7 linked regions of the Homo sapiens genome follow. The protein of the gene in region 1 interacts with the protein of each later gene in a pairwise test. Each region holds a gene or a part of one and is shown in the gene's direction. Other genes may lie near its edges.

The links.
Region 2: the proteins of BATF (region 1) and PEX1 interact in binary tests that used the Homo sapiens proteins (3 or more experiments, as listed by UniProt).
Region 3: the proteins of BATF (region 1) and EPAS1 come close enough for resonance energy transfer, tested with the Homo sapiens proteins (one large-scale study listed by BioGRID).
Region 4: the proteins of BATF (region 1) and IRF4 interact in a two-hybrid assay, tested with the Homo sapiens proteins (one large-scale study listed by BioGRID and IntAct).
Region 5: the proteins of BATF (region 1) and ATF2 come close enough for resonance energy transfer, tested with the Homo sapiens proteins (one large-scale study listed by BioGRID and IntAct).
Region 6: the proteins of BATF (region 1) and GLE1 interact in binary tests that used the Homo sapiens proteins (3 or more experiments, as listed by UniProt).
Region 7: the proteins of BATF (region 1) and DBP come close enough for resonance energy transfer, tested with the Homo sapiens proteins (one large-scale study listed by BioGRID and IntAct).

The regions. Positions count from the first base shown.
Region 1 is NC_000014.9:75,539,182-75,543,502, forward strand, and holds part of BATF (basic leucine zipper transcriptional factor ATF-like), read left to right. Parts: intron 1-4,321. UniProt on the Homo sapiens protein: AP-1 family transcription factor that controls the differentiation of lineage-specific cells in the immune system: specifically mediates the differentiation of T-helper 17 cells (Th17), follicular T-helper cells (TfH), CD8(+) dendritic cells and class-switch recombination (CSR) in B-cells.
Region 2 is NC_000007.14:92,493,851-92,498,171, reverse strand, and holds part of PEX1 (peroxisomal ATPase PEX1), read left to right. Parts: intron 1-1,394; coding exon 1,395-1,459; intron 1,460-2,402; exon of another isoform or gene 2,403-3,542; coding exon 3,543-3,685; exon of another isoform or gene 3,686-3,775; coding exon 3,776-3,879; exon of another isoform or gene 3,880-4,321. UniProt on the Homo sapiens protein: Component of the PEX1-PEX6 AAA ATPase complex, a protein dislocase complex that mediates the ATP-dependent extraction of the PEX5 receptor from peroxisomal membranes, an essential step for PEX5 recycling.
Region 3 is NC_000002.12:46,380,488-46,384,808, forward strand, and holds part of EPAS1 (endothelial PAS domain-containing protein 1), read left to right. Parts: coding exon 1-230; intron 231-1,108; coding exon 1,109-1,235; intron 1,236-1,487; coding exon 1,488-1,602; intron 1,603-1,937; coding exon 1,938-2,111; intron 2,112-4,021; coding exon 4,022-4,173; 3' UTR 4,174-4,321.
Region 4 is NC_000006.12:404,964-409,284, forward strand, and holds part of IRF4 (interferon regulatory factor 4), read left to right. Parts: intron 1-54; coding exon 55-167; intron 168-1,802; exon of another isoform or gene 1,803-1,936; intron 1,937-2,491; coding exon 2,492-2,635; 3' UTR 2,636-4,321. UniProt on the Homo sapiens protein: Transcriptional activator. Binds to the interferon-stimulated response element (ISRE) of the MHC class I promoter. Binds the immunoglobulin lambda light chain enhancer, together with PU.1.
Region 5 is NC_000002.12:175,116,024-175,120,344, reverse strand, and holds part of ATF2 (cyclic AMP-dependent transcription factor ATF-2), read left to right. Parts: intron 1-1,975; coding exon 1,976-2,094; intron 2,095-2,226; coding exon 2,227-2,355; intron 2,356-4,321. UniProt on the Homo sapiens protein: Transcriptional activator which regulates the transcription of various genes, including those involved in anti-apoptosis, cell growth, and DNA damage response.
Region 6 is NC_000009.12:128,520,898-128,525,218, forward strand, and holds part of GLE1 (mRNA export factor GLE1), read left to right. Parts: intron 1-1,770; coding exon 1,771-1,919; intron 1,920-2,382; coding exon 2,383-2,443; intron 2,444-2,692; exon of another isoform or gene 2,693-2,694; coding exon 2,695-2,949; intron 2,950-4,294; coding exon 4,295-4,321. UniProt on the Homo sapiens protein: Required for the export of mRNAs containing poly(A) tails from the nucleus into the cytoplasm. May be involved in the terminal step of the mRNA transport through the nuclear pore complex (NPC).
Region 7 is NC_000019.10:48,631,446-48,634,691, reverse strand, and holds part of DBP (D site-binding protein), read left to right. Parts: intron 1-1,036; coding exon 1,037-1,248; intron 1,249-3,246. UniProt on the Homo sapiens protein: This transcriptional activator recognizes and binds to the sequence 5'-RTTAYGTAAY-3' found in the promoter of genes such as albumin, CYP2A4 and CYP2A5. It is not essential for circadian rhythm generation, but modulates important clock output genes.

The DNA.
Region 1 (4,321 bases):
AAGCAGCCATCCTCAGTATGAGGCTTTCATTCTCTAGGCTGTGAGATGGGTGCCGAGCCTCTCGGCATCAGTCTATGTTGAAGGAAGGAAGCCTTTGTCCTTATGAGCAGGCTGTGCCTTTTTGGTAGGAAGGGAAGCTCTGCCTTCACCTCCCTCCCGCCCATCAGGTACTTCTGCTTACGTATCTTTGGTCAGAATTCTGTCACATGGCTACCCCTAGCTACAAGGTAAGGTAAGCTGGAATTTTTTTTTTTTTTTTTTTTTTTTTTTAGCAATTCTTTTCCCAGTCTTTCTAGAGGAAGGCAAGGCAGAAGGGGTTTGGGATGGACGCTGAATGAACCAAACTATAGTTTTTTTCACATTTGAGGGCAATGAAATCATAGTCTTGAAAACCAAGGACCAGGCGATAGCCTTTTCACCCTGTGACTAGACAGGTCCCTGAGGGCACGGCTGATGTGGCCAATCTTCTGTAAATGCAAAGGTGCTTATGGCCCTAGAGCTTCAGCTCTAAGACATGAAAGTGAAGGTTCCTCCAGAATCACACACGTGCATTATTCAGCGCAAAGATCTGTGGTTTGGTGATTCTTCTTCTCCTTTCATAAGGTGAGAGGCAGCAGTTGGGGTGAATTTCCCCAGGAATGGTGGGAGATGTGGGCCTAGATCCTCCCGCTGCTTGGGAAGAGTCGTACTTTTCAGTTGGAAGCCTGCTCCAGGAATGGCGGGCTCCACCCTCTGCATGTGACGTACAGGGGCTGGTAACTGATGGAGCCTGAACATATATCTGGGTGTGAGGGATAAGCTTCGAACGCCACTTAAGTGTAGGTGGGAGCCAAAAGGTCACCCTGCCAATACATGATTACATGTCCTGTTGAGGAGAAAATACACAGGGACTATTTTCACCCTTCTGGAAATTGTGATTAGAAAATGCAAGGAGAAGGCCAAGACACTAAACTGGAGCTGGTAGGGAGGAAGCCTCAGCCCTGCTCAGGGTGCCTGGACAGTCCCCACCAGGGCCCAGCTAGGAAATGCCAGCCTTGTCCTTGGTCTTCGTCCCTAATGGCTCCCGGCGGGTGAGGGAACTGCCTGGGGATTCCCCATCGTTGAAGCGCTCTGTGAGTGACCCCCTCCTAAGCCCCTCCAGTAGGGGATTTCCCAGAATGTTCCCACGCCCCCAGGAAGCCTCTTCCTTAGCCACCCCCAAGCTGCTTGCGGTTCATGGTAGAGGTAGGTGGCATCAAATGACCCCACAGGTGAGGGATTTGCCTGAGGTGGGAAAAGAGGGAAGATAAAATTGGAAAGCCACCGGGGCTGAGGAATTATCTCATAGGAGAGAACTGTCAAACAGTATAACGTTTAAACAGACTTTAAAGGCAAGAAAGGATGGAGGGCACAGACTCTGAAGCCAGAGTGCCTCAATTCAAGTACCGGTGCTGCAACTTCCAAGCTGCGTGATCTTGAGCCAGTGACTTAACTTCTCTGTTCCTCTGTTTTTCCTCTTCTGTAAAACGGAGATAATATTTTCTACCACACAAGTTTGTTGAAAATATCAAATGTAATGATAACCATAAAATACTTAAAAGAGTGATTGGCACACGGAAGTATTCAATAAATGTTAGTTATTGGCCAGGCATGGATGATTCACGCCTGAAATCCCAGAACTTTGGGAGGCTGAGGCAGGCGGATCACTTGCGGTCAGAAGTTCAAAACCAGCCTGGCCAACATGGTGAAACCCCGTCTCTACTAGAAATACAAAAAGTTAGCCAAGTGTATTGGCGGGCACCTGTAACCCCAGCTACCCAGAAGGCTGAGGTGGGGAGAATTGCTTGAACCAGGGAGGCAGAGGTTGCGGTGAGCTGAGATTGCACCACTGCACTCCCAGTCTGGGCAACAGAGAGAGACTCTGTCTCAAAAATTAAATAAACAAATAAATGATAGTTAAGTTAACCTAGGCTATTTTTTTAAAAAAATTTTGGTTTCTATCCACCTTTTTCGTATAAATTGAGCCAGGTTACACCTTAGACCTATTAGATCAGAATCAGGCATCAGGATTGCTAAAGCTCCCCAGGGGACCCCAGTGTGTGGATGAGGTTGAGAATCATTGTTTTGGTCCAGTCTTTCCATTTTAAAGTGAGGCAACTGGAGCTGAATAGGGAAATCGAGTCACTGAGGATCACCCAGCCAGGACCAGGGCCCAAGTTCCTATTCCCATTTACCGCTGATGGAGCTCACCGTGGTCATGAGTTCAGGACCTGGCTCTGTGTCTGGAGGAAGGTCTGGCCTCGAGTCAGCCCTTGTCCAGAATATCTGGCCAGGTGACCCCCTCTCCATGCAGCCCAGGAGGCAGATGGTCAGCTCTATGATTGGAAGAATGTGAGTGACTCAGGGATCTTGTGTTGTGTTGTGTTGTGTGTGGGTCACCAAAACCGAGACCCAGCTTTCTCCTGGGAGACAACAGGGTAGCCAAGGACTTATTTTTTTGTTTTGTTTTGTTTTGTTTTTTGAGACAGAGTCTTGCTGGGTTGCCCAGGCTGAACTACAATGGTAAAATCTTGGCTCACTGCAACTTCTGCCTCCCAGGTTCAAGTGATTCTCCTGCCTCAGCCTCCGGAGTTGCTGGGACTACAGGCATGCGCCACCACGCCCGGCTAATTTTTGTATTTTTTGTAGAGACAGGGCTTCACCATGCTGGCCAGGCTGGTCTTGAATTCCTGACCTCAAGTGATCTGCCCACCTCAGCCTCCCAAAGTGCTGGGATTACAGGCGTGAGCCACAGCACCTGGCCAACTTTCTAGTGTTCTCGGGAGACCTTTGCCCACTCAAGTCTCCAGTCTCTCGGGGGAAGCAGTCAGTGTGAGAGAAGGAACACAGGGCCCCGAGCCAAGCCCTGCTCTGCGCCTCCCTCGCGGGCAATGAGTCTTTGCATCAAACACTCAAAGTTTCTGAACTTCTGAGAAAACAAGTGCCTTGAGGTGAATCCTATAGCACAGCTGTCACCAGCCTGTGGTCATTTTGGAGGGTATGTGGCATAGGTTTGTCCCAGGGTCTCAGTTGTCCTCATCTGTAGAGTGGGGATAATAACAGCTGACCTTCCCTATCCCACACAGAGCGTTATTGTGAGGAGTCTGATGGACCTGGATGAATTCTGAATAGGAGAAAGATGGGTACATGGATGCCCAAATGCAGGCTCACCCCCACCCCTCTCAGTAGCAGAAGACATGCATATGGGAGAAGCTGCATTTCCTCCCAGCCTCACTGTGCTCTAGGTGTCCAGCCCTCATTGTTAGGGGATGTCACTGTTGTACCTCTGGATAAACAGCTGCTCTCATGCCACCTTTGCCAGTTGTCCCTTCAGCTGGGCGAGCCCTTTCCAGGGCATGACTGCCCCAAGGAGGGCCAGAGGGGACTGGGCAATAGCAGGGACATGGAGGGACGAGGCCCCAGATCAGCCACTTCCTCCTGCAAGGGAAGTCAAACCCTTTCTCTCATAAGTGTCAGGCTGGCTGCACGGTCCCTGGGCTGGCAGGGCAGGTTTCTTGGGGGCCCTAGCAGGAAGCACTCTTGCTTCCCAAGGTAAAGACAAGTTTCTTATCACTGGCGGTGGTTTTCTGGTTAGAGGCAGCAGGCAGCGGTTACAAACTTTGCCTAGAGCTCTGGGATCTGCAAGCCAGGGAGGGGGAGGCAGACGACAGAGCTAGAGTGAGCTCAGCAGAGCTTGCTTAGGGAGGAAGGACCCGCTGTCACTTCCCGAAAGCTGGGCCAGCCTCTAGGCGGGGAGAAGGTCAGAGTGGCCCTCCCTTCTGCCTCGGGGTTTGCCCAGGCTCTTCAGAGCACAGAATTTACAGTAAATGTTGTCACCAGTGGAAACTCTCAGAGGGGGCGAAGAAAAGGGCTAGAGGAAGGAGCCAGGACTCCCGGCCCCCAGTTCCCGTCTTACCAACACCCCCTAGTCTCATCGTGTTGCTTGATCTTACCTTTCGGTAAAGAGGGGATGCCCTCCTTCTGGGATGTGCCAGGAAATACCCAAATGGTAAAATGAATGAGCCGGCCACACCTTGCAGAAGGCAGGGCTGTGACTCCATCATCGTGGCTCTTGATAACTCCTCTGCCCCGTTTTAGAGGGGCTTCCTTTGTACTGACCTTGGCACACTTTCTAGCTCAGAGCCCCATTCAAGAAATGCCAGGTTGAGGCTGAGCATGCTTGTGTCTGTCCTTCACAGATGATGGAACCTGGCTTGATGAGCAAGGCCATGTTGGTATATGCTTCTCTGCCATTTAGAAAGACCCCCCCCAGGATGTGGGGTTTAAGATGATTGACAGTATA
Region 2 (4,321 bases), on another chromosome or scaffold:
GTCGTGTTTTTTTGAGAACTGGCAATGACGGAGAAACTAAAAGTGCCAGGCTGTTGCCTTGTTCCTGTTATTTTGCCTTAGTTTTTTTTTTTTTTTTTTTTTTCTCTGAGACTGAGTCTTGTTGTGTTACCAGGCTAGAGTGGAGTGGCATGATCTCGGCTCACTGCAACCTCTGCCTCCTGGGTTCAAGTGATTCCTGCCTCAGCCTCCCGAGTAGCTGGGATTACAGGCGCCTGCCACCGCACCCGGTGAATTTTTGTATTTTTAGTAGAGACGGGATTTTACCATGTTGGCCAGGCTGGCCTCGACCTCCTGACCTCATGATCCACCAGCTTCGGCCTCCCAAAGTGCTGGGATTACAGGCGAGAACCACCGTGCCCGGTCTTGCCTTAGTTATTTCTTGTTCCCTCCTCTAGTCCTATAGTTCTCTGACTGTATTGAGGAAATGTAATTAAATATTATTATGTTAATAGATATTTATGTGGTTGAATATTAGAAATTCCTTATTTTGGTCACATATCCTGATCAGTAGTTGGTCTTCTGGAGATAGTGATTTTTCACTAGAGATGACTTTAGGACCTATTCAGGTTTTTTTTAAGATCCCAATTTAAGGAAAGACTATTCTCATTATTGATTTTGCTATATGCAGGGAAATTTATTTCGAAAGGTTTTTCAGTTGGCTTTTAGGGAAGATTATATATTCTCTTTTTTTTTTTTTGGCCTTTTCCCACATGTTCTAAAAATGATATATTCTTTAACTCCTATGAAAATACATTGTTTCAGTAATTGAAGATGCTGATTAAAGTCATATCTCTACACATTTTTTAAAATTTGAGATAGATGGGACTTTGTCCCTTCTTACACCATTCACTTATTCACTTGGAAAAACTATTATCCAATACTTATGTGGCAGACACTGTTTCTGGCACAAGGGATTCAGCAGTGAACAAAACTGCCTTTTTGGAGTTTACATTCTACTAGTGGAAAGCGACAACAAGCAGATAGACACATTCAGTATATAATTCACTGTCAGATGGTGGTGGTAAGTCCTATGTAGGAAGAAAAGCAGGGTAAGGAGGCTTGGAGTAACTGGAGTGAGTCATAGATGGACTTGTCAGGAAAGGGTTTCTGAAGAGGTGGTATTTGGGCAGAGATCTAAATAAAATGAAGCAACAAGCCATGAGAATATCCGGGGGAAAATGTTCTGGGCAGAAGCATCAAGCATAGAACTTGTGGTATGATATTTATTCTAGCACACATTAATTTTAAAAATGTATAAAAGACATCCATTTAATCATATTAAAGATTTCCATGATTCATTTAGACTTAGTCAGAAACCAAATTTATATTTTCTTTTTAAATAATTTTATCTCAACTCTTATTTTACCCAATAGGGGCCAGAGTTACTCAGCAAATACATTGGAGCAAGTGAACAAGCTGTTCGGGATATTTTTATTAGGTTGGTAGCCTATGAATGTTTTTAAAGTAACTGACTCTGTTATTATTTATCAATCAGTGCTTTTTTTGGTCTTGTTTTTTGAAGAACTGATATTTGAAACCTGTGGTTTATGTGAATTATTAATAAGCTAGAGGACGTGGATTCTCTATTTCATCAAATAATACAAAACATTTTAGATATTAAATTTTGGAAATTATTTGGTTTTGTTTTACAATAGAAATACTCCTCAAAGTGGAATCGAAGTGGTTATTCAAAGAAATCTCAGAGTAGATTCTTATATGAAGCAAATAATTGCCCCTAATTTATCTCTAAATTTTGTAAGTTCTAAATTCTTTTTTCCCCCAGTTTCTAATTTATCTCTTATAAGTCAAGAGTCCATCTGGCCAATTTAATTTCAGTGAGTGTAACTATTTTGCATATATTAAAAAACTGTATATGAATACAGAAGATGGTATTTAAGGATGAAAATAATTATTCAAATGTGATAGCATTATGGGGAGTTTTAAAATAAAAGTTACTGTTTTATTCTTCCAAAAATTTTATTATAAAGTATACAGTTAAGAGAATATACATAAAATACATATGCAGCTTAAGGAAGAATAATAAAATGAATACTTCATGTATTCACCACCGAGTTTACCAGGAAAAAGCATAAACAAAATAAACCTCTTCCACGTAATTCCTGGGTTAAAGAGAAGTTATAGTGGAAAATATTTGGGAGCAAACGATAATGAAAATACTATCCATTAAAATTGTTAGATGTTGCAAAACTGATTTCAAGGAAAATTTATAGTGTTAAATGTTTAGAAAAGAAAAAAGGTTAGAAGTTAACCACTTATGTATCTATCTCATGAAATTAGGAAAATTATAGATATAAACTAAAAAATATGTTAAAAGGGAAATAATAAAGATAAGAATGAAGTTTAATGAAACACAAAACAGAGAAGCTCACAAAGCCAAGATTTATTTTTTGAACACCGAGTACAATTGACAAATCTCTAACAAGTTTGATTAAGAAAAAAGAAAGCATGAATAAACAATTTTAGGGATAAAAAGGGAAACATCGCTAAAGATATCCCAGAAATGTAAAAGATAATAAGGGAATATTATGAAAATATTCATGCCAATACATTTGAAAACTTAGGTGACATAGACAAAAACAAAATTGACCAAAATTGAGCAAAAAAGAAACAAAATCTGAGTAGTCCTGTAACTTAGTAAAAATTGAGTTAGAAAAGTTAAAGAAGTCTTTACACAAATCAAACATCAGACTCAGTTTTCTAGGAGAGTTTTGCCAAACATTCAAGTAGCAGATAATTCTGGTCTATTTTTGGCCCCAGAAGATATATTTTACTTGCCATGCATTTAATGAGATAGCTGTTGATTTTTTTCAATCACCGTGACAGGTGTTTTATATTAGGTGTTATTCGCCAGACATCTAGTCCACCTGTTGCCAGATATGGAATTAATATTCACTTATTTTGAATTAAAATTTGTTAATAAATTAATAAAACAAAGTCAAAGTTCAAATTATTAAAAAAGTAAAAGAAATAAAATATATTTTATAGAGAGCCCTTACAAAACAGTACCAACATAATGAGCTTTCCAAATTTTGAATGGGCAAAATAAATGAATAGGCATTTCACAAAAGAAGGAAGGGTGGCCAATAAGTATATATTAATATAAAAATGGTTACTTGTAATAGGAATCAAAAGTGTTTGACTTATTGACTAAGAGTCAGTTTTTGTTTTGATCCCTGTTAGTCTATCCAGAAGGCATGGGTCTTAATAAACACCTTGACCTCAACAGTTTACTGAATACAAGGGTAATTTCATATGCCTTGCCTTCTTTAAGGGTTTGTTGTAAAGATTAAAATAAATACATAAATATATATAAATACATTTATATGTATTTATATGTAATTACATACAACTTGCCTTCTTTAAGGGTTTGTTGTAAAAATTAAAAGAAGTATATAAATATATATAAATACATAAAATAAATACATTCATATATGTATATGAAATCACTTTGCCAACTATGAAGCCTGATTCAAATATGAAATGTTGTTTGTTTTTCCCAGAGCACAGGCTGCAAAGCCCTGCATTCTTTTCTTTGATGAATTTGAATCCATTGCTCCTCGGCGGGGTCATGATAATACAGGAGTTACAGACCGAGTAGTTAACCAGTTGCTGACTCAGTTGGATGGAGTAGAAGGCTTACAGGGTAATAATTATAAATACAGAAATAGAATGTTATAACAAAATGTCATCATGTCATCAGATTTTGGTAAAAAAATGTTCTTTTTTCCTCTAGGTGTTTATGTATTGGCTGCTACTAGTCGCCCTGACTTGATTGACCCTGCCCTGCTTAGGCCTGGTCGACTAGATAAATGTGTATACTGTCCTCCTCCTGATCAGGTGACAATTTCATATTTAGAGTCCAAAACCCAACAAATGCTACACTCTTTCCTTGTGAGCTTTACTTCTGCCAGGTAATGGCAATTGTCCTTAGAAGACCAGCTTTCTTAGGGAAAAGCTTTAGCCACTGTTTGCTCAAAGCATAAAAAGATTCTGAATTAGATGCAAAGCCTTTTTTTGGCCCAGTGCAAGTCTGAAAACTTTGTAATCCTTCTGTGTTGGCTGATTGGGGAAAAAAAAATGCAAGAAACCTAATGTATTATATTTTCACATTATCTTCTGTTCAAAGATTACATACTTCCATTATCCTGTCAAAAAAAAAACTCTGATACAGAATCAAGCATGTGAATCGTAAGCATGTAAGCAGGTTTCATAGAGATAATTTTTCAACTCTTCCTTGTCCTGTGTTGTTCCAACTCTTATTCTCCAATTTAGAAGCAAA
Region 3 (4,321 bases), on another chromosome or scaffold:
TCCATCTTCTTTGATGCCGGAAGCAAAGCATCCCTGCCACCGTGCTGTGGCCAGGCCAGCACCCCTCTCTCTTCCATGGGGGGCAGATCCAATACCCAGTGGCCCCCAGATCCACCATTACATTTTGGGCCCACAAAGTGGGCCGTCGGGGATCAGCGCACAGAGTTCTTGGGAGCAGCGCCGTTGGGGCCCCCTGTCTCTCCACCCCATGTCTCCACCTTCAAGACAAGGTAAGTGGCAGATACTCAGCTGTACCAGCAGGGCCGAACCGAGAGGCACCCACTAGTAAGATAGCTGGACCCCCAGGGAGGCCCCTGCCCCTCTCCCCAGCCATCTGATACCCCATTTAGCCCTTCTCTGAGCTCAGACTTTGGGGAATCACCTCAAGCCATGTGAGGCCTAGTGTAGGATGGGTTTTTATCTGGGCTGCCACTGAGGGCAGGCAAAGAAGTGGCTTGTTGAGAGCCCTGTACCTCAGTGTCTCCCTTCGGACCACCACCAGAGTGCCTTTCGTATCTCGGTTCATCATCTGAGCCACACAGAAAATTGAGTGATGATTTTCCCTGGTTGAAAACAGCAAAAAGATACCCCTGCCTCCCCTTGCCTTTTGGCTGCCCCCGGGTCCTCGCCACTGCAGCCTCTCCCAGCTGTGCCTAGGCTCCAGAAATGCCTTCCCATCTCCCCAGCATGCTCATTTCACCAGCTGCGAGCTCACTGGGCTAAGGCACAGGGGTTGGTACATGACCTGCCACTCCCAGGGGCCGCTGGTACTTGCCCTTTATAGAGCAGCCAAACTAGTTTTCAGTGGGAGCAAAAGGCAGAGGAGAGACATGGGCAGAAGAAACCCTCCTAAGGACTAACATTGCCCAGCCAGGCAGCCATCCCCCAGACCAGGAGGCTTGAGCCCTTCAGCATCTTATAGCTGAGGAAGGAGACAGAGCTCGAGCTCGGCCTGCAGGTGCACAGCCTGCCTCTGAGACTCTGCCTTTTGGGTCTTTGAGTCATCACAGGCATCAGCATTGGGACTGGAAGGGCCCCTAAGATGAGAAGGCACTGAGTGGCATGTGGCTCCAGACTCCCTCATAGCCTGCTCTCTCGGGCTTGGCAGGTCTGCAAAGGGTTTTGGGGCTCGAGGCCCAGACGTGCTGAGTCCGGCCATGGTAGCCCTCTCCAACAAGCTGAAGCTGAAGCGACAGCTGGAGTATGAAGAGCAAGCCTTCCAGGACCTGAGCGGGGTGAGTCATCCCCACTGGCCACAGGGGCCTCTCCATAGCCCTTAGGGAACCCAGGGCTGCTGAGAGGGGTGGGGATGTGGCCCTTCCAAGCCAGCATAGCCCTTAGGGAACCCAGGGCTGCTGAGAGGGGTGGGGATGTGGCCCTTCCAAGCCAGCAAGTGCCAGCCCTGTTCCAGGCCCACCCAACCCACCCAGTCTGGGGACCTGGTTCTCTGGCCATTTCCCCTTTCCATCTGCCCTTCTTACTCCCAGGGGGACCCACCTGGTGGCAGCACCTCACATTTGATGTGGAAACGGATGAAGAACCTCAGGGGTGGGAGCTGCCCTTTGATGCCGGACAAGCCACTGAGCGCAAATGTACCCAATGGTGAGCAGCGGCCACAGGCCTGGGCCTCCTGGGGGTTCTGGTGGAAGGACTGGGGCTCGGGAGCCCATCCTGGTTCTTCCATTCACCACAGGCCGTACCTGCCTCTCTGAGCCTTGTTAGAATGGGGCGATGTCCTCTGTCTCTCCCGCAGTCCCACACACCCAACTTTTCCATCTCCACTCTGACTTAGATGATGCCATCAGAGGGTCCTGAAGGTTGGCTGTAGTTCTGGTGACTCTGAGCACCTTTTATAAAGGAAAGGGATGCTAGGGCTTCCTGGCCTCTCCCCTCCCTCAGGCCAATGCTACCGTCACTCTCTGACTTTGGTCTTTCAGATAAGTTCACCCAAAACCCCATGAGGGGCCTGGGCCATCCCCTGAGACATCTGCCGCTGCCACAGCCTCCATCTGCCATCAGTCCCGGGGAGAACAGCAAGAGCAGGTTCCCCCCACAGTGCTACGCCACCCAGTACCAGGACTACAGCCTGTCGTCAGCCCACAAGGTGTCAGGTGGGTGTGCCCAGGATCTGTCACCCCCATCCCAGGATTCGATGCCAGGGGAAGCCCACGTCTACTTTTTTTCCAGCGTCTGCACAGTGCCAGGCACAGGGAGGTGCTTGACTTGAAGTCACCTATACAGGGCTCAGGTCTCCTTGGATTTAGGGAACCTCCTCACAAGTTCCTTGTGACATCAGTGATCAGGCCCCCCAGTGGGTGGGTCTGAGACACAGCTAAAAAACTCAAACTCAGGCTAGAATACTGAAGGAAAGAATGCAGACCACTACCGACTGCCCAAAGAGGACTGAACACTGAACACTGGGTTGGCGACCCCCAGAACACTGTACCACTGTTGACAGGAGCACTTTCAGAAGAAAGAGCAGGCGGCCACAGTGGTGAGGGCCTGTTGAAGAAGAGAAGAGAAAGTTCAGAGAGAGAGAGTTGGGAAGCGGTCTGGGCAGAGGCAGGGGATCTCCCGTCTATGCAAGGATGAGCTTGCTGCGTGGAGAAGGGAGTGCTCCTTCCCTGGGGCTTTAGGGAGAACCCTCCCATGATCAGGTGCCATCCAGGGCTCTTTCCACCCTGAGAATCCCGGAGCCTTGCCCCTTCCTCAGTTCTTCATGTGGATGTGTTTTGGGGTGTCACTCTGAGTTCAGGCAGGTGCTGAGAACATGCCAAAACTTCCTTCAGGTAGAACAGCCTGGAAAGCTCTGGTAGGCCCACCCCACTGGACTTGGTTCAACTGCAGGCACCAATGCCTGCCTTCAACCCTGGGCCACCTTCATCTTGACAGTATCTTGTGAAACATATATGTCTTCATGAGGTTTGTTTGGCCTGAAAATAATTCGTGGTTTATGGAAAAACATACCAGGCCCCTGTTCTAAAAGGCAATTTCCTCAGCAATAGAGTTTGGGGAAGGTTATAGTTCTGTGCTTCAGAGTCCAGGCTGTAGAAACACCAGACAGCCCTGGCTTAAATTCTGGCTCTGCTGTTGAGTTCAGGGGCTGGTATATATTTATGTGCAGTAAGAGGTAGCCAGCACTATTCTTCCTGTTATGTGAAGCCCACGAATTACCTTGAATATTGAAATCAAGGGAAAATCATATTCTTTTCAAAAGAGTTGAATCATATCAAACTCTTTTCTGACCATGAATAAGAGAAGTTAGCAAGGGATGGTGAGCAGGTATCCATTGATACTGTCCACAGGAGCAGTCAAGCTGGGGAGGCAGGCATGGACCCCAGCAAGGATCTGAGCTAGGAGGTGCAGGAGGCAATGGCCACTGGAACGAGGCTCTGCAGATAAGGGAAGGTGGGTGGGCATCTCCCATCGGAGGGGCAGAATGCAGGGCTTCCAGGCTCTCTGCTGCCACCTAAGCCTTTCCTCCTTGGGATGGGGGCCTGTGTGTGTGCTGCGAGTGTCCCCCCTGCCACTCCCTGGTCTGCCTCCTCGGCAAGAGAATAGCACAGAGGCAAGAAGAAAGGACTGCTGAGGGTGGTGACCAGAAACTGGATTTTCAGACTGTTGAATCTTGAGGCAGTCTGTGTTTGCATCTGTATGTATGTGTGTGTTCTGCATGTTCTGTGTATGTGAGCATAGGTGCCAGGTGGTTCAGCCTTTCCTCCCTGCTGCCAGGAGGCATGGGGGTCAGCAACCCCAGGCTCTTCCTGAAGCTTCCACATACCTGTGCTGCAGCCCGCACCTCACGCTTTCCTCTTTCTTGGGTCTCAGCACCCCACCTGAGGCAGTGGTTCTGGAGGCAGACACGTTCCCCGGGCATGCAGCAGGCCGTGGGACAGACACCACTGAAGGAGCAGAGTGAAATTAGGGCTGCTCTATTGGTATCCCCCAGTCACAAAGAAGTAGACACTTTTCCAAATGTTCGATTTAGGCCTTTAAGTTATGGTACCAACCCTTCTTTCAGGCATGGCAAGCCGGCTGCTCGGGCCCTCATTTGAGTCCTACCTGCTGCCCGAACTGACCAGATATGACTGTGAGGTGAACGTGCCCGTGCTGGGAAGCTCCACGCTCCTGCAAGGAGGGGACCTCCTCAGAGCCCTGGACCAGGCCACCTGAGCCAGGCCTTCTACCTGGGCAGCACCTCTGCCGACGCCGTCCCACCAGCTTCACTCTCTCCGTCTGTTTTTGCAACTAGGTATTTCTAACGCCAGCACACTATTTACAAGATGGACTTACCTGGCAGACTTGCCCAGGTCACCAAGCA
Region 4 (4,321 bases), on another chromosome or scaffold:
GTGTTCGGTGATGAGGGTTTCTGAACATGGTCTCTTTCTTGTGGGCTTCTACAGAGCTGCAAGCGTTTGCTCACCACGGCCGCTCCCTGCCAAGATTCCAGGTGACTCTATGCTTTGGAGAGGAGTTTCCAGACCCTCAGAGGCAAAGAAAGCTCATCACAGCTCACGTGAGTCCTCAGTTACACTCCTACCATAGTGGCTTCCTGTTCTTTGTAAAGGCCAGAGTTTCATTTAGAAAAGTCCCAAATGAAAAGTAAATGTCAAATGACCTGGAAAAATAAGCGTAACCCTTAAACTAGTGAGGGAGGAAGCATGGTCCAACGAGCAGCACAGTCTGAGGACTCACGTGCTCCTCCCAGACTTGAGATCTGCTCATCAAAGAACCAGGGAGGACAGCCTCAAAGGAGGGTGCCTCTTTCCCCATCTTTTTTATTTTTCAGGAAAGTTGTCGTATTTCCATTTTATAGGGATTGAAAAAGATTGATGGTTAAAGTTGCCCTTTAAAATTCTCCAGGTTAAGATTGCTGTAAGAATGCTATCTAGCTAGTGGATCTTCATTCAATGGAAAAGCTTTTCCCAAATGAGAAACTATCCATTCCCTGGAGGCATTTTGTAGGTCTCTGCAGCTGTGTCCTAGCACCTCTTTTATTTCTGGAATTTTAGAAATTATTTAATTATTGGGCATATGATATTTGAAAGAGGCTGAATCTTTCAAGGAATTCAAGCAAATCAGACCCTCTCGTAATGTTCTCTAGCATAGCTCAAGATGGGTTCAACTGTGGCAAGTAACACTAAAAGGGTAGGGTTAGGATTAGGGTTAGAGTTTTCTTTTTTATGAGAAAAGGTTTCCATAGATAACATGAAGCATTAATTTGCCATGGGAAACAGAATCTTGAACCCTTAAGACTTTTGAATTTGAAAACTTCACATTGCTACATACTTGCAAGCATTATTAACGGGCTTGCATGCTGAGCAATACCAGGTAAAAGTTACACCCCCTAACATCAAAGTTCTCATCATGTTCTAGCTCTGATGCTATTTCTCATTGAGAACTGAAATGAAACATGGTTTAATCTTGAACATACAACCCCCCTTCTTGATTTTAAAAACAAAGACCAGCCAACCAACCAGTATATAATCCCATAGACTCAGGAGTTTTCTCATGAGTTCTCTCCAGTGATTGACTTAATAATTGATATGATTGTTGAAATAATAACTGATACATTGTTAACAACAGGAATTGCTAAATGACTAAATAAACTTGGCATTGATAAGCAGCATTTAAGAAGTTGATGATCGGCCGGGCACAGTGGCTCACGCCTGTAATCCCGGCACTTTGGGAGGCTGAGGCGGGCAGATCATGTGGTCAGGAGTTCGAGACCAGCCTGACCAACATGGTGAAACCCCCTCTCTACTAAAAATACAAAAATTAGCCGGGCGTGGTGGTGCGCACCTGTAATCCCAGCTACTCGGGAGGCTGAAGCAAGGGAGTCACTTGAACCCAGGAGTCAGAGCTTGCAGTGAGCCGAGATTGCACCACTGCACTCCAGCCTGGGTGACAGAGTGAGACTCTGTCTCAAAAAAAAAACAAAAAAAGAAGTTGATGATCAGCTCAGCTATCACATCAATCCAGTTTTAAAGTTGACATGGATGCAAGTCACTGTCCTCTAAGTCAGGGAAAGATGGATCCCCAGATGACCCCCTCATGCTGAAGACGAGGCTGCGTGGTCCATAAAATGAATAAACACACGTGTACACCTATGAGTTCCACTTTTAAAAATTATTAATTTAATTCATTTCAGGTACTTAGGAGTTTAGCTTAAGTCGTCATATATAAAATACAGTCTCTAATATCATGATTGATGGAGAGCATTCAGCTTGCCTTAGATGCTGTAAATTCAGGAAAAGCTGAACATTAAGGCGTTTTTGTTTTTTGGTGAGTGTGATCCACGCTAATAACCAGACAGTATAAATTTGAGGCCAGTTAGCTTCTCTTTTTCCACAATAGTAGTTTTGTTGTTGTTTAACTTTACTTTTTATTTCTTTTACCTCTGGTTGAGAACTATACAGATTACCTAGAAATCAAATCATTCAGGATGAGCTCCTTGTTTCTTTCAAACTGCAGTTGTGGAAAAACAAAATCATTGGCCTAAATTACCCTGCAGATTCCCTCAGACTTCCTTTTAATTTGATCACTTTACTTGATTTGATGCAGTTTTAGTTAAATGTACATTTTAAGTGGCAGTCGATTTGAAAGTAACATCTTTAACCCAGAATTAAGTCACTTTGGCTGTTTTTTTACATGTTGATCTATGGAAGGACTAACCAAAAAATTGCTTCTTTAGATGGCTCCAAATATGAAATGTTTTGATGTGTTCTAGGATGTAACTTTGGGCTTTACGTTACTGTCTCCTTAGAATCTGAGTGCTGTTTAATAGTGAGCCAGTTGCAGGATATCTCAGTAATGTCTTTTTAAAATCTCTTATTAAAGGTAGAACCTCTGCTAGCCAGACAACTATATTATTTTGCTCAACAAAACAGTGGACATTTCCTGAGGGGCTACGATTTACCAGAACACATCAGCAATCCAGAAGATTACCACAGATCTATCCGCCATTCCTCTATTCAAGAATGAAAAATGTCAAGATGAGTGGTTTTCTTTTTCCTTTTTTTTTTTTTTTTTTTGATACGGGGATACGGGGTCTTGCTCTGTCTCCCAGGCTGGAGTGCAGTGACACAATCTCAGCTCACTGTGACCTCCGCCTCCTGGGTTCAAGAGACTCTCCTGCCTCAGCCTCCCTGGTAGCTGGGATTACAGGTGTGAGCCACTGCACCCACCCAAGACAAGTGATTTTCATTGTAAATATTTGACTTTAGTGAAAGCGTCCAATTGACTGCCCTCTTACTGTTTTGAGGAATTCAGAAGTGGAGATTTCAGTTCAGCGGTTGAGGAGAATTGCGGCGAGACAAGCATGGAAAATCAGTGACATCTGATTGGCAGATGAGCTTATTTCAAAAGGAAGGGTGGCTTTGCATTTCTTGTGTTCTGTAGACTGCCATCATTGATGATCACTGTGAAAATTGACCAAGTGATGTGTTTACATTTACTGAAATGCGCTCTTTAATTTGTTGTAGATTAGGTCTTGCTGGAAGACAGAGAAAACTTGCCTTTCAGTATTGACACTGACTAGAGTGATGACTGCTTGTAGGTATGTCTGTGCCATTTCTCAGGGAAGTAAGATGTAAATTGAAGAAGCCTCACACGTAAAAGAAATGTATTAATGTATGTAGGAGCTGCAGTTCTTGTGGAAGACACTTGCTGAGTGAAGGAAATGAATCTTTGACTGAAGCCGTGCCTGTAGCCTTGGGGAGGCCCATCCCCCACCTGCCAGCGGTTTCCTGGTGTGGGTCCCTCTGCCCCGCCCTCCTTCCCATTGGCTTTCTCTCCTTGGCCTTTCCTGGAAGCCAGTTAGTAAACTTCCTATTTTCTTGAGTCAAAAAACATGAGCGCTACTCTTGGATGGGACATTTTTGTCTGTCCTACAATCTAGTAATGTCTAAGTAATGGTTAAGTTTTCTTGTTTCTGCATCTTTTTGACCCTCATTCTTTAGAGATGCTAAAATTCTTCGCATAAAGAAGAAGAAATTAAGGAACATAAATCTTAATACTTGAACTGTTGCCCTTCTGTCCAAGTACTTAACTATCTGTTCCCTTCCTCTGTGCCACGCTCCTCTGTTTGTTTGGCTGTCCAGCGATCAGCCATGGCGACACTAAAGGAGGAGGAGCCGGGGACTCCCAGGCTGGAGAGCACTGCCAGGACCCACCACTGGAAGCAGGATGGAGCTGACTACGGAACTGCACACTCAGTGGGCTGTTTCTGCTTATTTCATCTGTTCTATGCTTCCTCGTGCCAATTATAGTTTGACAGGGCCTTAAAATTACTTGGCTTTTTCCAAATGCTTCTATTTATAGAATCCCAAAGACCTCCACTTGCTTAAGTATACCTATCACTTACATTTTTGTGGTTTTGAGAAAGTACAGCAGTAGACTGGGGCGTCACCTCCAGGCCGTTTCTCATACTACAGGATATTTACTATTACTCCCAGGATCAGCAGAAGATTGCGTAGCTCTCAAATGTGTGTTCCTGCTTTTCTAATGGATATTTTAAATTCATTCAACAAGCACCTAGTAAGTGCCTGCTGTATCCCTACATTACACAGTTCAGCCTTTATCAAGCTTAGTGAGCAGTGAGCACTGAAACATTATTTTTTAATGTTTAAAAAGTTTCTAATATTAAAGTCAGAATATTAATACAATTAA
Region 5 (4,321 bases), on another chromosome or scaffold:
GATATGTTACTTATACAGAAGAGTGAGATAATGCTTTTTTTTTTTTGGAGTATTTTACATTAGACATTAAGAGCTAGAACCAAAGGAACCAAACAAGCAAAATAGTAACAACCTCGAAAGTTCACTCTCCTAGGCATGAAGCTCTTTGTTTCTCTGAAACTTTCTGCCTTAGCACAATCTCTGTCTGTGTGTAACTCTTTAACTCAAATATGTTTTGAAATTGGTTTCTAGAAATTACTTTCCTGTCTGATCACATTTAATGCAGTAGAAAAATAGAGCACATTCAAACACAGTACTTGACCTTTTTTTTCACTAACATGTTGAGATGAATAGGTTAACATTACTATGCAAATAAAATGCATGATGTGTGTGGTATATTTTTGGTGATCAGTAGCCATATGCAATGTGCATGTTAAATGATTGTGCCTATGTTGACTTTTCTGAAGTCTGATGGTTCCAGTAATCATTGATAAAAGTGACTTATGCTTATGTATTTTATTTTTTTAAGATTTTCCCCTCCCTTTAATGTAAGTTAAGAGCCTTCTGATGAACTTAGATAGACAAACCCTTTGGGTGTGAACAGAAGAGTCACATTTAGATTTGACCTACTAATTTAGTCATGATGGACTTAAGCTAATACATGTACTTTACTTACTGTAATGTGATTTTTGAGATCTTTTGGGAGGTGGGAATTAAGGGATAGGCTAGAAACTAGTAAAATTATGATATAATAGAGTCCTTTTAGTAATTCTGATATTACTAACAGTGCCTGAAACAGGCCTGCATTATGTCTAGTTTTGTATTACAAGTGGGTCATTTTAGTGTGAAATATATTTGTACATAGTAAAAATACTAGTCCTCTAGGTATACATGTGGGGGGCAAAGGTAAAATAGGAAGTAATGCCCTCTGTGGGGACATAATGGTTAACAAATATGTAAATTTTAATCTTACAAAAGGAATTAGGAGTATTTTCTCTTAAACCAAGAGTCTTCCTTAGTAGAGTACTTTTACTTCACTTAGGCTAGATCCCTGCTATAGCCTGTAAAATTGGTGCTCTAAAATATATTAAATGTGAATAGAATTTGAATGTGCTACCAACTCTAATCAATATGAATAGACACCCTTGAAAATAGTAACACTAAATAGGCAGAATTTATAAGTTTCTTGCTTTTCATTCAGTGTAAATCTTACCTGGCATTTTTTGTAGCCTATACATGGACACTGAGTACCTATGTTAATGTACATAGTAGGAGTACATATTCGAGTAAAGTTGAAATGTTTCATGTTGTAAGAAAATAGAGTAGACTCTTTCTTTACTCCTTAGGAATTAAGCTAGAACATTCTGGAGGCATGTGACTCACACATATTCCTTGTACCTAGCTTGTAAAATGCATTAAATTAGAAAATTAGTTTCAGTAGATAGTGGTAAAAAGAGGGTTTGTTGTTTTAGGGCTGTTTTAACTTTTTTTTTCTTTCTTACAATATTTTTATCTACCTATTAAAGATTGTTTTATCTTAGTTTGCTTTCATAATAGAGTATGAACAGCTAGTGGAAGAACCAAGTTAAAGCAGATATACATGCTCTTATCCTAGTTTTCCCCAAATTTCATTTATTTAAATAATTGTAGTTTTTAATAATGTAAATTTAAAAAATTCTTTATACTGTGTTAGATAATAATAGTTTATCTCTTGAGTAGAGGATGTTTATGCCATTCTACTCAGAAAGAAGCAGTGGACTAAGGAGCAAAAAGGACTTCTTTCCTACTTTCATATTTCATAGTTCTTAAAGTTGGAGGAAATACGAAGTACAACAAAAATTTAACCAAATTTTGTTTGTTTTAAAGGAAGAGGTCTTTCCAAAGAGAGAATTAACAACTGACTGAACCAGTCCTGCTAATTTGTTAACTTAGTAGCTATATTTTAGAGTCTTAACATATTTAAATATGCATGATTACTTCTTGACATTTATTTCAGATCAGACCCCAACACCAACAAGATTCTTGAAAAACTGTGAAGAAGTGGGTTTGTTTAATGAGTTGGCGAGTCCATTTGAGAATGAATTCAAGAAAGCTTCAGAAGATGACATTAAAAAAGTATGTTGTAACCATGAAATTTAAAAAGAGTACTTCTGACAGAAAAGTAATCATAGTTTATACTTCCTGCTTTTTAAATTTAGACACACTGTTTTTGAACTTATAACCTTTTCCTTATTATTTGAATTATAGATGCCTCTAGATTTATCCCCTCTTGCAACACCTATCATAAGAAGCAAAATTGAGGAGCCTTCTGTTGTAGAAACAACTCACCAGGATAGTCCTTTACCTCACCCAGAGTCTACTACCAGTGATGAGAAGGTTAGAAATTTTTAGAAATACAAAGTAAGGGGGAGGAACAGTACCCAAATAAAGTTTACTATTTAATCTCCATAAAATGTTAATGTATTAAATTCAGTGTCAGCTTGCAATAGTTTTATATGTGAAAGCCTGTCAATACTCAGATATTTCAGGGTAAGAAGACTGCAGCTTTTATTGTACATAGAAAAATTATAGGGGAGAACAGTCATGTTACATAAAACTTATTTTTAAAAGATATATAAATTTATAAATTTAACTTAATTTTTCTGTGTTTTGCTATTTTATATTTAGCTACTTTTATACAGTAACAGCTTAATTAAGAATCTATTCAAAAAATTATTTGAACAGTGGTTTTTTAGACTTTTACAGGATTAAGGGACTAGTTACTCATTCTCAGCAGTGGATCTTTGTTAGCGGCAATTAGGACGATGATGATACTAGCTTGAATACCCAGATAATCTGGGACCACCTGGGCTACAGTTGTGTGTTGAGTAACATTATTATGGGAACTTCTTGATCACTCTTTTGTTCACAAGCACATAGAATAAGCACATATTTATTTGGGAGTACCATGCAGGACACAGCGAAGGGCAATGGGACACATAAAGAGGCAGTGGCAATATTCTTTTTTAGATTGTTATTCTAAAACCATACTTATTAATGGACTTCTGTCATGGCAGAGGAGCTAGAAATAAGGAAATACAGAAAAAATAACTTTTTGGCTAAGAATAAATGCTTTGTTTTCTGTTTTTTTTTCTTCATTTTCTTTTTCTCATTTTAAAAGTACATTCTCATTCTTCTTCTCTAAGAATACAGAAACATGAAAAGAAAACCAAAATCACCTATTAGCACATAATTGAATAAGAATTACTATCTTGAAACATTTTTTTCTAGATATATACATTTATAGGTACAAATACATAAGTGAATAGTTAAATAGAAGGATAGATGGATATAAAGATCCTAGCTTTATTTTATATTGTGCTTTAGACCCTCAGTATTGATGAATATTTTCCCATGTCATTAGAGAGTTCCCCAAATCATACTTTTTAATGATTGTACTTTATTTTATTATATGATATGTATATGTATTATGTTATCCTGTTCTTTTTGGACATAAAGGTTGTTTCCACATTATTACAGTTATTGGAAATGCTTTTTAAATCTCTGATACAAATCTTTTTTCCTAGAGAGCATTTCATTCTTTTCACACTTAACAGTTTTTCATTGTTCGTGGCTGCTTCAGCATCTTTTAGGAGTATTCCTTCTTTCTGCATTCCCCAATCATTAGGCCCTCCTTGAGCAAGGTATACCATATGAAATTGATTTAAAAAAAAAAAAATCTGGACCTCTTCTTCTTTCTTGATTTTCTTCCTAGGTGATCTCATCCAGGCCCATAACTTTAATAAACATCTACATACTGATGACTCCCAAATTTCTATGGGCATAGGTATCTCACCAGATTGCCAGATTTATATCCAACTCCATCTTGACATTACCTTTTCTATGTCTAATAGACATCTTAAACTTAATAGGTCAAAATCAGAGTCCTTGATTCTTCCCCCAGTTTTCCCCATCTCAGTAAATTTTCTCCATCCATTTAGTTGTTCTAGCTGAGAATTTAGGGGTCATCCTTAATTTCTTCTTTCTTTTACACTGAAACTAACAGCATATTTTATCAGACCTGAATCTCATCCTCTATGTCTGTGTTCAGTGACACCACGTAAGCCCAAACCATCATCATCTTTTGTTTGGATTATTAACAGTTACCTTCTAACTTGTCTTCCTGCTTCTACCTCCAATCCATTTTCTGTAAGATGACTTTTAATACATTAAATATGTCACCTGCTTAAAATCTTTCAATGGTCTACCATTGTATTTAAAATAATTCACACTCCTTGGCATAAGCCCTCTTTGATCTGGGCCTGTCTACGCATCTATCCTTACCTCATGCCTCTCTATTGTG
Region 6 (4,321 bases), on another chromosome or scaffold:
GACTGCAGGTGTGCACCACCACAGCCAGATAATTTTTAAATTTTTGGTAGAGACGGGGGTCTCTCTGTTGCCCAGGCTGGTCTCGAACTCCTGGGCTCAAGTGATCCTCCCACTTTGGCCTCCTCAAGTGCTGGGATTACAGATCTCAGCCAGTGCACCTGGCTATTTCTCCACTGACTGTTTTCCAGAAGTATGTAGAAGATTTTTCCCTGCTGGTGACATCTCTCATGCTCTATGTGGTGTTATGTCTTTTTTTTCTTTCCAATTCTCACTTTAACAGAGTCCCAGAGGAGAGGACATATATGCTTGTTTAGTTTGCCTTCTTTCGCTGGAAGCTTTAAAATAAGTTTTAAGACTGGGTACAGTTGGCTTATGCCTATAATCCCAGCAGTTTGGGAGGCCAAAGTGGGAGGATAGCTTGAGATCGGGAGCTCTAGACCATCCTGGGCAATATAGTGAGACCCTGACTCTATAAAAAATTTAAAAATTAGCCCCGTGTGATAGTGGACACCTTTAGTCCCAGCTACTCAGGTGGCTGAGTTGGGATGATCCCTTGAGCTCAGGAGTTCAAGGCTGCCGTGAGCTATAAGTGTGCCACTGCACTCTAGCCTACATGACAGGGTGAGACCCTGTCTCAAAAATAAACAAATAAACAAAATAAAATATAATTATGTTTTAAAATAAAATAACATAATGTCTTAACAGTAGATTTTGACATATCTCCATGCTAGCTGGCATCTCGTCATCTTTAAGGGCTGCATAGTATTCTGCAGTATGACTGTACTATAATACGTGTCGTCATTCCCCAGTTAAGTGGTTTTAAATGTATTGCTGTTATCAACAGGGCTCCAGTGAGCATTCTTGTACATATATCTTTGCACACACATACAAGCATTTCCTCAGGATAAATTCCTGAAATGGAACAAGTGTCAAAGGATATAGACACTTCAAATTTTGATAGTTAAAATGTCAAATTGCCTTTAACCATATGTGAGTACTCTCATGAAATGATAAATTCAATATCTGATACCCTTAGGTACTAAGGAAAAGGACTTTCCTTAGTGGAGGTCCAGGAGAAAATCTTCGAGGCAGAGATTAACAAAATCAGTGAGATAGGAATGTGTATAGCTTGTTTATGGAATTAGAATGAGGATTTCCGTAAATTACCAATGAACCCCATAAGACTACACAGGATGGAAGCTTAATAGTGCATGGCTGTTTGATGTCATGTTGCTAAATTCCTGTCCGTTCCCAACTTGTACTGGAGTGACATAAACCATATGGGGCAATTGGAAGAGCTTTCCAAAACAGCTGAGCTTAAAGATCAAGCAAAAGGAGAAAGGATATTCCTGCAAAGGTTCTGATTCCATGCCCTTAAGTATCTCTGATGGTGTTAGGGGCCGATGGGCAGGTAGCCCGCAGGGGTAAATGATCAAGGTGTTGAAGGCGCTCCAGAGAGCAGGTGTTAAACATTTTCGGCCGGGCGAGGTGGCTCACGCCTGTAATCCGAGCACTTAGGGAGGCCAAGGCAGGCGGATCACAAGGTCAAGAGATCAAGACCATCCTGGCCAACATGGTGAAACCGTCTCTACTAAAAATACAAAAATTAGCTGGGCATGGTGGCAGGCACCTGTAGTCCCAGCTACTTGGGGAGCTGAGACAAGAATCGCTTGAACCCGGGAGTTGGAGGTTGCAGTGAGCTGCACTCCAGCCTGGCGACAGAGAGAGATTCCATCTTAAAAAAAAAAAAAAAAAAAAAAACCTTTTCAGGAGGGCCTGAGGCTATGGCAGGAGGAGCAGGAGAGGAAGGTGCAAGCCCTCTCGGAGATGGCATCTGAACAACTGAAGCGGTTTGATGAATGGAAGGAACTGAAGCAGCATAAAGAATTCCAGGACTTGCGGGAAGTAATGGAGAAGAGGTGAGTCTCCCTGAATTATGACTGGGAATGTTGATGTGTTCAACTGGAACTCTTTCCCAAGAGGAATTCCAAAGGGAAAGAGTTGAACAACTTCTGAGTCCTTAAATATCAAGGTAAAATAGGCAGAGAATTTTATAACCTGGAAAAAAGACCAAACTTGGAGAGACAACCAAAGGAACACAAAGAGGGAGGCTTTTAGGAGAGGTAAAACAATTTTACGGGCGTGGTGGAACACAGCTGTAGTCTCAATTACTAGAGAGGCTGAGGCAGGAGGATTGCTTGAGTCCAGGAGTTTGAGGCTGTGGTGAGCTATGCTCTGCAGCCTGGGCAACATAACGAGACCCCATCTCTAAGAAAAAGGGAAGGAAGGGAAGGGAGGGCAGGGAGAGGGAGAGAAAAGAAAGAAAGAAAAACAATTTCAGGAAGTATCCCTGACTATTCCTCCCTGCCATTTTTCATGCAGCTCCAGAGAAGCCTTGGGACACCAAGAGAAGCTAAAAGCTGAGCACCGTCACAGAGCAAAGGTCAGAGCCTGGCAGAATTGGTGTGGGTGTTTTGGTGTCTGTCTGTAACCTGCCTGGAGAGCCAGGTTTTGGCAGATGGCCACCATGGAGGATCTGGGCCGTATTATGCCTGTGTATGACTAACCTTGGGATGTCCTCTTCCTGCTCTGAGCCCATCTGTGAAAATATGTAGCCCACGTAGAATTTGAGGACTGTAGAAAGAAGAAGCCCAGGAACCCCTCAGAGAGAAGTCACTCAGCCCTTTTCTACAGATTCTCAACCTGAAGCTGCGGGAAGCAGAGCAGCAGCGCGTGAAGCAAGCAGAACAGGAGCGGCTTCGGAAGGAAGAAGGCCAGATCCGCCTGCGGGCCCTCTATGCTCTGCAGGAGGAGATGCTGCAGCTCAGCCAGCAGCTGGATGCCTCTGAGCAGCACAAAGCCCTGCTTAAGGTCGACCTGGCTGCCTTCCAGACCCGAGGCAACCAGCTGTGCAGCCTCATCTCAGGGATCATCCGGGCCTCTTCAGAGGTGAGGGGGGCTTCAGAGTGACTCTTTGCTGTCTTTGAAATGGAAGCCTTTAAAAGCAAAACTGTTTTCTGACTTAAAAAGTAATACCTGCTATCTGCTTATTGGGGGAAATACCAAACATTACTTGTTATCTCCATATCTCTTTACCTAGAAGTAACCACTGTTAACATTTTATTTTGTTTCTTTTATTTATTTCTTTATTTTTATACCTGCTTATTCTGGAGTCTTTTTTTTTTTTTTTTTTTTTTTTTGTGATGGGGTTCCCCTTTGTCACCCAGGCTGGAGTGCAGTAACACAGTCTCAGCTCATGCAACCTCTGCCTCCCGGGCTCAAGTGATCCTCCCACCTCAGTCTCCTGAGTAGCTGGGACTACAGGCGCATACCACCATGCCCTGCTAATTTTTGTATTTTTTTGTAGAGACAGGGTTTTGCCATGTTGCTCAGGCTGGTCTCTAACTCCTGGGCTGAAGTGATCCCCCTACTTCGGCCTCCCAAACTGCTGAGATTACAGGTGTGAGCCACGGTGCCAAACTTTTTTTGTTTCGTTTTGTTTTTAAATTAGCAATAGAGATCTCACTATGTTTCCCAGGCTGGTCTTGAACTCCTGGGCTGAAGTGATCCTCCCACCTTAGCCTCCCGAAGTATTGGGGTTACAGGCACGAGCCATTGTACCTGCCCTGTTTCTTTGCTTTGCTTTTTTTTTTTTTTTTTTTTTTTTTTTTTGAGACAGGGTCTCACACTCTTGCCCCGGCTGGAGTGCAGTGGTGTGATCATGGCTCACTTCAACCTCCGGCTTCCAGGTTCAAGCGATTCTCGGATTACTTGAGGCTAGGAGTTCGAGACCAGTAGGTTTCAGCCAACATGGTGAAACCCAGTCTCTACTAAAAATACAAAAATTAGCTGGGTGTGGTGACGCACACCTGTAATCCCAGCTACTTGGGAAGCTGAGGCACGAGCAGCACTTGAACCTGGGAGGCAAAGGTTGCAATGACCGAGATCTTGCCACTGCACTCCAACCTGGGCAATGGAGATTCTGTCTCAAAAAATAATTATTATTATAATAAAACAGTATTATTTTTGTCTAACATATTGTCACAAACTTTTTAAAAAATTACGCTGGCCCTTGTTGCTGAGAATACAGACCAATTTATACTTAGAAACTATGGATGTGACAGTAAGTTGGAATTATTAATACCTTTAAGAGAACAGGGAAAGAAGTATCAATTCGTTGAATGTGGATACTCCATTGGTGCAACAATTCCAATTGCAGGAAATTTATTGACTTGTATGAGGTATGATTTACCTAGGGAATGACCACTAAGCACCATCTCCGTCACTCTGACAGAGCAGCTATCCCACAGCAGAGAGTCAA
Region 7 (3,246 bases), on another chromosome or scaffold:
CTCCCATCCCTCCTCCGCGCTTCGCGCAGGCGCCTTCAAGCGCGAGGGGGGCGGGGCCGGGGGAACGTGAGGGCGCCGATGGCGGGGGCCTGGGAGGAAGGGAGGAGGAGGGAAGCAGGCGTCAGCACGTGACTCGGCCCTGAACCTGTGTCCTTAGCTGGCCCCGGCTGGCTGGTGCTTAAAGGTACAGGCGCCTCCTTTCGAACCAATCTTCTGGAACCTTAGAGCAGCTTCTCCTCCTCTTTCCAGCGAGTAGCTCTTAGACTCTAACTTGAGAGCTTTTCAGTGCAGTAGATTCTTTTTCTCTGGACAGTCTGGGGTCTAAGCTTAGGTCGTGGATTCGGTAAGTAGGATTCAGGCTAGACTGTGCATCTGAAGTCCTGAGGTTTTAGAAGCAATAGCCCCATCGCTTCTCGGCCTTTTGGCTAAGATCAAGTGTAGAAGCAATAGCCCTGATTCGTGTGTTACCTAGGGCAAGTCAGTTATGACTGGGACTCAGTTTCCTTGTTTGTAAAGGTGGATATGGCTCCATGATCTCTAAGCATCTTTATGGCTTAGGGGAACCTTCATTTTTCTCGTTATTTTGGAGACGGAGTCTCGCTCTGTTGTCCGGGCTGGAGTGCAGTGGTATGATCTCAGCTCACTGCAACCTCCACCTCCAGGGTCCGGGTTCAAGCAATTCTCCAGCCTCAGCCTCCCTAGTAGCTGGGCTTACCGGCACCCGCCACTACACCTGGGCAATTTTCGTACTTTTAGTAAAGATGAGGTTTCTCCATGTTGGCCATGCTGGTCTTGAACTCCTGACTAAAGGTGATTCGCCGCCTCGGCTTCCCAAACTGCTGGGGTTACAGGCGTGAGCCACTGCGCCTGGCCAAGGGAACCTTCATATTTTATATTAGGGAGATTAATCCCTGGCCGAATTTATGCTAGATCCCAGAAGGACTTTCCATGTGGCTATGATACCACAGCAAAAAGTAGCTTCAGGAAACCCCCTCCTTAAAATACACACTCAGCTGACACGTGCTGTTTCCCCAAGGCCTGACCTCTCGGGACACACCCAGCCCTGTGGACCCAGACACCGTGGAGGTGTTGATGACCTTTGAACCCGACCCAGCTGATCTTGCCCTATCAAGCATTCCTGGCCACGAGACCTTTGACCCTCGAAGACATCGCTTCTCAGAAGAGGAACTTAAGCCCCAGCCAATCATGAAGAAGGCAAGAAAAATCCAGGTGCCGGAGGAGCAGAAGGTGAGCAGAGCTGGATGTGGGAGATAGACTTGGCTGGAGACATGCCCCACAGCCAGGGAGGGGCCTTTTCTCACAGTCAAGCCTGGGCTTCTCCTTGGGATTAGTGCTCAGCCTCTCCTGGCCTGCAGCCACAGATTAGTCCTCCTTGGCCACGGGGCACAAGGGGGCAGGGGCCTGAGGTTTATAAAGACAGTGTCAACTGGGCGAGGGGCCTCACTCGTGTAATCCCAGCATTTTAGGGGGCTGAGGCAGGAGGATCTCTTGAGCTCGGGAGTTCAAGACCAGCCTGGGCAACATGGCAAAACCCCATTTCTACAAGCCACTTGGGAGGCTGAGGTGGGAGGACTGCTTGTGCCTGGGAGATTGAGGCTGCAGTGAGCCAAGATTACACCACTGCACTCCAGCCTGGGCAACAGAGGGAGACCTTGTCTTAAAACAAAAGACAGTGTCACTGTGGGGTGCTGACTCAGCCAGCTCTGCTAGGTCTACTTGTAGAGACTTGGAGCTTCTCCTATTACTTGGGTCCAGAGCTCCACCAGGCACACTTGCAAAGGACAGTCTTCCTTTGGCAATGGGATATCAGCCTGTGGCCTGTCTCTCCTTACTCAGCAGGCCTTTGATCTCTGATGTGGGACTTCCTTTGGAGTGATTGCATTTGGCTAGGATGAAGACTGTGCCAGCCCCTTTAGGCCTTGTTTCCTGGGCCTGGACTTCTCACTGGTGGGAGACTTCAGGCTTCTGTTAGCAGCCAGTGCCACTTTCTGATTTGGGGTGATTTGAGCAGTCATTGCATCTTTGCATGATTTTGTTTTTTGCCATTACTGGAGTCTTCCCTAGCAAGAGTTGCTTGGGCTTCTGTTACAAGACTTTGTCATTCCGGGCCAGGCGCGTTGGCTCACGCCTGTAATCCTAGCACTTTAGGAGGCTGAGGTGGGCGGATCACTTGAGGTCAGGAGTTTGAGACCAGCCTGGCCAACATGGTGAAACCTCGCCTCTACTAAAAGTACAAAAATGTTCCGGGTGTGGTGTCTCACACCTGTAATCACAGCACTTTGGGAGGCCGAGGCGGACAGATCACGAGATCAGGAGACCATCCTGGCCAACATGGTGAAACCCCGTCTCTACAAAAAAATACAAAAATTAGCTGGGCATGGTGGCACTCATCTGTAGTCCCAGCTACTTGGGAGGCTAATGTAGGAAAATCGCTTGAACCCAGGAGACGGAGGTTGCAGTGAGCCGAGATCGCGCCACTGCACTCCAGCCTGGGCGACAGAGTGAGAACTCCATCTCAAAAAAAAAAAAAAAGAACAAAAATTAGCCGGACATGGTAGCGGGCACCTATAATCCCAGCTACTTGGGAGGCTGAGGCAGGAGAATCGCTTGAACCTGGGAGGTGGAGGTTGCAATGAGCCGAGATCATGCCACTGCATTCCAGCCTGAACGACAGAGCGAGACTCCATCTCAAAAACAAACAAGACTTTGCCATACCCTTGCGTAACACATAGCTACTTGAAGCACCTAGGACTGGCCTGGAAGTCAGATCTACACCAGTGGTTTCTCCTTCTAGAGGGCCCTGTTGCTAGGGACTGGATTTACCCTCACAAGCAGGAACTGGGCTTTAATTAAATAGTGGAGTAGAGAGCATCTTTCTGAGCCCCGTGGTCCTTGGTTACTAAGGAGGAGTCTTCCTTAGGAACCAACTTCCAGGATGGGAGGACTTTAGGTATAATCCTCTGGGGAGGTCTCAGGATAGTCCCCTTTCCTAAGAGACAGCTCTTCTCTCAGTCAGGTCCTACTGGGGAGGAGGCTATTCTCTGGCCTCAGTTCAAGGCCAGCAGGTCAGAGGCTGGCCACAGTCATTGAAACCACTTAGACCTCACTTTTGTTTGCCAAGGATGGATGAGGTTGCCTTGGCAACCAGGTCAGAAGGCCCCAGCTCTGCGAGGATTTTATGGGACACCAAACCCCATCACCAGGGCACCAAGCTTTCCTTAGCAA